2 separate regions of the Homo sapiens genome follow, and region 1 is linked to region 2. The links come from fine-mapping of genetic effects on gene expression. A gene starts in region 2. The other region holds a variant in brackets. All regions are shown on one strand. Distances are from middle to middle.

What was found. PIP is the estimated chance that this variant, and not a neighbour inherited with it, causes the effect. A credible set is the group of variants that fine-mapping cannot tell apart.
Region 1: its variant is the best candidate, but not a certain one, in a credible set for the expression of SPAG16 in testis (GTEx, PIP 0.50).

What each region holds. Positions count from the first base shown.
Region 1 is chr2:214,211,756-214,216,157 of GRCh38, reverse strand. The region is part of intron 15 of SPAG16 (sperm associated antigen 16); the gene reads right to left. Among named protein-coding and RNA genes, the nearest start is that of VWC2L, 200 kb to the left of the region's middle. The variant G/A (reference allele first, on the strand shown) is at 1,781.
Region 2 is chr2:213,282,066-213,286,467 of GRCh38, reverse strand. It overlaps SPAG16 (sperm associated antigen 16), which reads right to left and starts at 2,004. Exons shown (of 16, transcript NM_024532.5): 1 at 1,849-2,004. The coding sequence starts at 1,984. SPAG16-DT (SPAG16 divergent transcript) reads left to right here and starts at 2,259. Exons shown (of 3, transcript NR_161186.1): 1 at 2,259-2,435. RefSeq lists enhancers at 1,602-1,681, 1,752-1,801, 1,842-1,971.

The DNA of each region.
Region 1 (4,402 bases), 930 kb before region 2:
ATCAATATCCATTCATAAAATGCTTTCTCCAACCTTCTGTCATTATTCTACCAATTTAAAATAAAACTTGGCTAATTTTATTGTCCTGAGGCATGAATTTCAAATTCCTGCCTCCAAGACTTTACATGCAATTGTTTGCAACCAGAATGGCCTTTCACTAACTTTTTGCAATGGGTATCTATCAGGCCTTTTCAAAGCTAACTCACATACTCTATTTTGATTTAGAAACAGAGTCATGTTTTCTTGGAACTAAGGCAGGAAAAAGTCTGAATGGATTAGGATCTAGACTGAATTATAACAAAGGTGGGATTTAAGCCAAAATCAAGGTAGAGGTCAGAACTGTTTGACAATATTGACAGATTAAGCTTATAGTAATGGTTGACAGAGGAGTGTATTGCAACTGGCAGAAGGAACAGAGGTCAAAAGAGAGACCACATAGGCTCAGTAGGAAAGCAATAGCATTATCATTGCAACAGTACGGGAAAGAGTTACAAAGAACACTTGTTGCTTGACAAGAGTTCACACTCAGTCATTCATCACTTATTTTCTTCAGTAATTTCACTGTCACATAAAAAGCAAGTTCAGACTTAGTAAGGAGAGACTTTATTTGAAAGTCTGTGGCAAGAGACTTCCTAGAAGGCTGGGGAAAGATAATGTTGCACTGGGGAGAAGGAGGTGACCATAAGGTCTACAAGCTTCTGAAGGGAGGAGTAAACAAAGCAAGAAAGAAGCAGTGTGGGGAAATGGAATCAAAGGTGGCCTGATAGGCTGGTAGGTTGGAGAATATCTTCCGTGAGGCCAGTCTATTCTATTCTTGGGAGGAGCTGAATGCTGGCTCACCTGGAGGTGAGCCAGAGGTCAGGGATCTTGAGGAAGGTTGGTTAACAGTCATTTTGTTCCAGCTGATCAGTTGGGACAAGCAGTTCCATTAGTCATTTCTGAGGCAAAGAATGGGAATTTGGAGGGTCTGTGTCTGGCCTTGCCTTATGTGAACAAGGGGGTCATCTATGAGTCTTGTCTAAGTCATATTGAGAAAGGTGGTTTCTGGCAATGTCTTTTTCTGGAACAAAAGAGTGATGGAATTTCTTAACCTTTAAATAAAATTTAATATTGTCATCACTAACATTTATGAAGTACCTTCTACCATATAACCATTGTACTGGGCCTTGGAGATGCAGAGATACGTTTTTTAAAGGCAGATTTGCCATAAATGTAATGAACCTTAGGCTCTGGTGACCCTCAACTGCACAGGTTGCTGTGAGATACTGACAGCTGCAGAGCATTCTAGATGGTAGAAAAAGCCAGGTTCCTATTAGGAAATATTTCTATGTAAGCATTTCTGGTAAATTGACAAGGGAGTTTGAGTCTTTAAATTTCCAGGCATTTGTTGTGATTTCTTTCCCAGTTCTAAATAAATATACCTAATTTTATATTAATAATATTATATTCTTTTTTTATAAAGAGGGCATCCCAGATTGCATAAACTTCTGTACCCACAAAATTTAGATCTGCCTAAATAAAATGATGTGGCTCTCAAGTACATCATTTGGAGATGGGTAAGAAACTCAACTGATATTTATAAGAATAGGCATTGGAATAGGTGAATCAGAGAGGAGACAAACCTACAGGCCTGGAATAGAGAATGCCAGGAAGGAACAGGAATTAAGGGAAGTTTTCAGTATCATAAGAAGTAACATATCAAAGAAAATATGGAAGACTGGGCATATTGGGAGGCCAAGGGAGGCAGATCACCTGAAGTCAGGAGTTTGAGACCAGCCTG[G/A]CCAACATGGTGAAATCCTGTCTCTGTTAAAAATACAAAAATTAGCCGGGCATGGTGGTACATGCCTGTAATCCCAGCTACTTGGGAGGCTGAGGCAAAAGGATCACTTGAACCTGGGAGGTGGAGGTTGCAGTGAGCCAGATTGTGCCACTGCATTCCAGCGTGGGTGACTCTGTCTCAAAAAAAAAAAAAGTAAAAAGGAAGGTTGGGAAGGATATTTTAGGCAGAGGGAACAGTATGTATGAATGACATGGAGATATAAGAAAGCAAATTGTTTCCATAGAATAAAAAAATATTGATATGGCTGGGTATAGGACACATGCGATGGAATAGTGGGAATGTAGGTTTGAGAAGAGAGCCCGAGTTCTATCACAAAAGGCACTATAAATAGAGTTTCACCTTAAATGAAGGGGCCATGAAGAAAATAAGATCCCTTAAAATTTCAAATTTATAAACAGATCACACTCATCTACAATTTTACTTCTAATGGATACTTATTGGTTCATAAAGGCCATGACCTTTATGGTCCAACTGTAAAGCAGAGGTAGCACCTTCACCTACCCAGGACCTCTTACTGACTATTTTGAGGAGATAGTAGTATACCCAGTAGATAGAATTGATTTTTTGAGTTATCACACAAGTTCTTTTTTTGAATACATGTGATTCTTAATTGGGCTCAATCCTTCTCTGAGCACATACATTCCAGGGGACAGTTTCCAAAATCTGGAGGAATATTTGGTTGCCACACTGGGTAGCTGGTAGAGGCCAGGAATGCTGCTAAACATCACACAATGCACAGAACAGCTCCTGTACATTATATTAAACTCAAAATGTCAACAATAATGCTATAGTTGAGAAGATTGCCACAAAACCTATGCTTGCTCCCTTGGGTTCAGGGAAGAATTCTAGCAGCTGGTCTCTGACCCTGGCCTTGACACAGCTCCCTGCCTGTTCACACTGCCTTGCGTTGTTGCACAGGTGGTTTCAGTGTGCTCAATGTGTATGGAGTTCTGTGAAGTCATCAGCTTTGCTTAAAATTCAGGCATTCAGGAATAAGTGACAGCTTTGTATGAACATTTGAATAAAAAAATTCAGGGGTGGGGATAAGTGGATAATCAGTCTGCTTTAAGATTGGATTAGGAATAAAGGTATTAATACATAATATGGTGCATGCATTATTTGCTTCCCCTGTGTGTGTGAGAAACTGGGAAAATCAATTTTAAAAGATTAGAATTCCCTTCACAACTCTGGAATGATTTGCAAATCTGGAAGGGTAAGGGAAAGGACAAGAAGGATAAGAAGCAGCTGAGTCTGAGTTGTTCAGGCAGCAGATGACGGGAATACACAACACACAAAGAACAAAGTACTCAATAGGGGAGGAAAAAGTTCTTTGATTATATTGACAATAATGGTGGCCCACCGTGCCTTCAGAGGTTAACGGGCAGGTGAGGAGTCTGTGCTGTGTGGACTTACATGTTCTAGTGTGCTGTGCACAGAGATGTGGCATTTCACAGTTCTCCCTCTAAAATTCCTCAGGTCCTGAAACTGAATCTTCAACTGGCTATTAGTTAGGGATCTTTCAATCTCAAGTGACAGAAATTGTATTCAAACTAACTGAAGAGAAAAGAAAGACTTTTTTGGTTCATCTATCGAAGGGATGAAAAATAGAAAGAGTAGAGCTAGCTGGGGTGATTCTGGAAACAAAAGCTCTTCCAGTTCTTGTTCCTTGCTTGGTGGCTTTAGTCTGCCCTTCTGGAGCCTGACTTTATCCAATCAATGGGGGTCTAACTTAGCATATAAATAGTGGTCCTCAACTAGGTACAGATACAGGGCACAATCACGGTGGAAGCCCTTGTGAAGCCTTCACTTCACAAGAGTCAAACAATGGACATGTAACCCGTGTATCAGGTAGTGCCAAGTTCTGTGAACCAAAAAGGAAGAAAGCAAAGAGATTGATGGATGCAGGGAGTGGGTGGTCGGGGAGGTGAGAAGGAGGAATTAATATCATAGGGAGGTCAAGGAAGTTACCTCTGAGGCGGTGATACTTGAGTAAAACTTGAAAGAAATAAGTGAAGGGATCACTTGTAGGTCTGGGTGATGAGCAGTTCTGGTAGATAAAAGACAAAATCAGGGAAAGCTTGCCATGTCTGAGGAACAGCAAGACAGTCAGAAACAAGAGAGTGAGGGAGAAATGGAGGAATTTAGAGAGGGGTAAACCAAGTATGTCTTGTCAGGCCACAGAGAGTAAATATTGTTCTATAATAAATGTAATGTGAATTCACTGGAGAATTTTAAGCTAAGAAATTACATACATAATTTGGTTTATATTTTACAAGTATATTTTGCTCTCTGGACAACGGCTTTAGCAAGATAAGAATGAAGTGGAAGACCAAATAGGCACCAAGTGTCACAGTAGCCCGAAACTAGAGTGGTAAATTGGAGGCCAGGAGAAGTGGGAAGTTTTGGGGGTTGTGGCAAAGGAAAACCAGCAGGACTTGCTGATGGGTGGAATGTAGGGTATAAGGAAAGATGATTTTACTCTGATCATATTGGGGGAATAATAGTGCCATTTTCTGGTCAGGGAAAACTGGGATGGAGCAAGCTTACTTGACAATTTGCTGG
Region 2 (4,402 bases):
ATGTGAAGAGTGCCCAGGGATACAGGAATAATTGGTATTCACAAGTAATCCTCAAACTTCATTTCAACTGAGAGTTGAAATGACTAAACCTCTTCCCTCAGCATGGAATATAGCAAAATAAACTGGTTAAATGTTTAACTGTGTATCCCCTGACTACCATTTGGTTAAAATACAAAATAGCAGTCAGTCAACCAAAGAAAGAAGAAAAGCAAATGGGTTGGATAATTCACACAACGGTTAGTAAAATCCTAAAAAGTTACAGTTGCTTATATGTGTTAAAGTTCAAATAAGTGTGATTATTTGAAAAAGTCTTTGTAAGACAGGTTTGCAAACTGCTACATCTTGGCAGGTGTGACTCAGTGATCTCCCTGCACATTAAGTAAACCTGATTTTCATTGCTGAAAGTTGTGTTATGTTAGACTCCTACCATTTATTTCACAAAGATGTTTGCAAAAAGTTACCTCATTGTGTCAATCTCATGTTAACAATTAAACTATGTGTTCACGGAAATAATTTTAATGCAAACAAAATTACAAGATGCCTGGTTACCATTCAGTAGCAAGGGCACTGGATATAGATAAGCTTAGGAAGAATTATGAAAATCGTTGTTAAAGAGGAATATCACTGGAAAAGACTGCCTGTTACATCTACGAAAACAGTATAAAACCTCATTTATGACACTAAAGCACCCATATATTTCTTTCAAATTCATTTCAAGCGATTCAAATTTCTATTCCTGTAAAAGTCGTTTTTGCACCCAATAAAATACTACATATTTTCTTTAATCTTTCAGCTAAATTCTTCAAAGCTCTCTGTAGTGTGGATGTGTACTGAGCCTGAGTCAGGACAGGTTAATCGGCTTGTCAAAGCTCACGAAATGAATCATTGCTGGATTTCTGAAATCTTGAATTAAACCTGGAGAGGATTACAGTTGGACAAACAAATAAGATTTGGCAGATTTTGGAGTTTCCTTGGTATCTTTAAGAACTGAACAGATAATCATCTCTTTCTTACCTCCCTGAATAAAGGAGTTACATGTCTTTTTCTCATGAACCCTCCCCGTCTCCCTAGTAGGAATTAATCTATATAACTAGAGGAAAGAAGTTCTAAAGCCTTACACAAGAAATAGTGGACCTAATTATCCACACATTGTTATTCAATTTTTCTGGTACTTCCGATAAAAATCGCTAATCACCATCTGCTTTATTCCTAATATCTCTGAGCTGTGTAGCTCACCAGATCATTATTTATTTGCTCAAGAAAAAAAAGCAACTATACTATTAGTATTTATTATTAAGTAGTCAAACTTGGAACTACTCAGGAAGATAATGCTATCAAAACTAAGCATTTAAGCATTAACTGGACCATCGAACAGGATCGTGGGTTGGGTATTCTGAGCTTCAGCTCCTTAAAGTCCAATGGCAGAGGTCTTTCCCTAGTCTCCTAACGTTCCTCCGTTGAATTTATTGGGACGGCTTTCTGAAAGATTGAGGGCTTATTTAGGAAACCCATTATTTGAAAGGAGGGTTGAAGCAATTTGTTGTGCTGTCTTAACATAAAAAGCAACCCTCCATCCAAAATGTACTGAGTGGTTACTAAGTATGAGGCCTTGGAAGGTCTCCCAACTCTTCTAACAGGTACAGGACACCCTGGGCTACTAAGGGCGAGAAATTCAGTGAGTGGCTCTCAGGAAGACTGTGGTGGCAAAAACAGCACCTTGAAGTCCAACAGAGGCTCCTCCGGAGTGGCCCCAAGGCTCAAAAGGCGCCGCCAGTGGGAGGCCCTCGCCTTCGTCCCAACACCCATTACCCGCCAGCGCAGCGGGCCGCGCCTCCACGGGAAGGATACGTTCCAGGTAGTAGGCGCCCTCAGCCGCCACCGCGTCCGCCGTGTCCCTCGCGTCCCCGGCTGCCGTCAAACCCATGCCCAACGCCTCTTCCAGGACCCTCACGGCGGAGCTGGGCATCCCTCGCTGAGCAGCCATCTCTGGCGCTTCGGGCCCCCACCCCCAGCAGGCCCACAGCCGTCCCTAAGGGCAACAGCGAAGACGCTACCCAACGGCCCCCGGGAGCTCTCGCGAGATTCCGGCATCTCTCACCCCGCCCCACGGACCAGCCCCGGGCACGTAAGGGTTACCGGGAGTCCAGGGAGCTGTCGCCCTCCCGCGCCTCCCAGTTACCGTGGCAACGATGTTGCCTAGTTAACGCGAGAGCTCGGGCGCAGCTCTGGGAGCGGACAAGATACAGTAAACAATTGGCTTGCATTGCACCTTCCTACCCAAGCAGCTTGGTTTTCTTTCGCTTTGACCCTGTAATTTCTTTCCCACTTCGTTGTCGTCTCTGAATTACCTTTCTCTTGATTCTTGCCCATTAGCATCCTCCAATTTCAGATGTTTGTAGATCCCCAAGTGTTCCCAGGGAAAACTACTAGAAAAGGTGAGTTCTCAACACCTGGAATTTTTTAAAAAATGAAAAAATAAAGTTCTAGAAATCATAATAGAAAGACTGACCCAGGGGAGCTACCAGACGCTCCTCAGATGCTTAGCAATGAAGAACTATGGTGTTCAGCTTTGTCAATTCCTTTCTTGTGATCTTTAATGCATTTAGCTGGACATCTGTTTTGAGTTTGGTTCCATATACTAAGACTTGGAATAGTATTTGTAGCATTGATTCTCGCCAAGGTAAAAACAGTTGCATAAAAATTATGAGCTACAAATTTGGTCCTGACAAATGTATGCAGTTGACACTTGCCCCATCATGTATAGTCTTATTGCTGAGAGGATCTTCCTCAGGTTATATCGCGTATGTATCAGAAGCAAATTCAAGGCCCTTTTCTTTGCAAATATTTTTTTTTCCCTTAACTTTTATTTTAGGTTCAGGGGTACAAGTGCAGGTAAGCTCATGTCGCAGGGGTTTGGTATATAACTTATTTCGTCACCCAGGTACTAAGTGTAGTACCCAATAGTTATTTTTTCTGATCTTCTCCCTCCTCCCACTCTCCTCCTCAAGTAGGCCCCAGTGTCTGTTGTTCCTTCTTTGTGTCCATTTGTTCTCATTATTTAGCTCCCACTTACAACTAAGAACATGCAGTATTTGGTTTTCTGTTCCTGCATTAGTTTGCTAAGGATAATGGCCTCCAGCTGCATTCATGTCCCTGAGAGGACATGATCTCATTCTTCTGTGGCTGCATAGTATTCCATGGTATATGTGTACCACATTTTCTTTATCCAGTCCGTTGATGGGCATTTAGGTTGAATCCATGTCTTTATCATGAATATCAATGAACACGCATGTACATGTGTTTTTATGGTAGAACAATTTCTGTTTCTTTGGGTATATACCCAGTAATGGGATTGCTAGGGCAAATGGTATTATTTTTCATTCTACATTTCTTGGTGAAAACTGGAAGCCAGTGATCCTATAAAAGCTCCCATTTATTACCAAAAGGTAGCAGTAACTTCCTAAGGAGGTGTTTGAGAGTACGTGTGTCAGAGCCAGAGAGACAGCTTTCAGAGCCTGCTTCCATCACTTACTAGCTATGACACATTGGGCAAACTACTACTTAATGCCTCTAGGCCCCAGTTTCATCATTTGTAGAACAAAGACAACAATATTACCTACCTCAAAGTGCTGTTGCAAGGGGTAAAGCAACAAAAAGCATTAAGAACTTACTGGGAACATAGAAGACACTAAGAAATGTTAGCTGTTATTTCTATTAAATGTGTTTGATATTGTTTTATTTTTTAGAATAATCAAGGGTCACAGATATAATAGTCGGGTAATTCATTCCTGGTACCTATTCTTTTACTACCCTACTCTTTGTCCTTGACTTCTCACATCAGACATTTCCTGAGTACTCATTAAATGCAAGGAACAATTACAGGAGGCTGAAAATACAGAAGAATTCTGACATTGGAGAATCCACTGCTTTTACAGAAAGCTTTCTCTTTATTTCAGAAGAAGGCATTACCTTATCTCTCAAGGTTGTTTCCTATAAATCCAGCCTTAACAAATGACCTGGGTAAGGAGTGGTCAAGGCCTTACATTTTTGGCATATCCAGCAAGACATGTAGGAACACAAAAGACATGAAGGATGGTCTCTCAGAGCGATTACTGTTTACTTTTATTTGTTTTTGTTCGTTACAATGGCTCATCTATTTCTGACTTTTTAGATGTAGTGTGTGATCTTCTACAGATGTTTGTCTCCTGCCTCTTCTGTATGACCTTAATTAAGTTCTCTGAGCCTTAGTTTCCTGTTCTGTAAACCGGAGATTTTAGTACCTACCTTACTAAAGTATGAAGACTAAACGAAATATGTAGAAAGCACTTATAACCATGTCTGGTATATCAAATGTTTTCAGTAAATAATCGTTAATAAAATGTGCTTAAAATATTGAATGAAT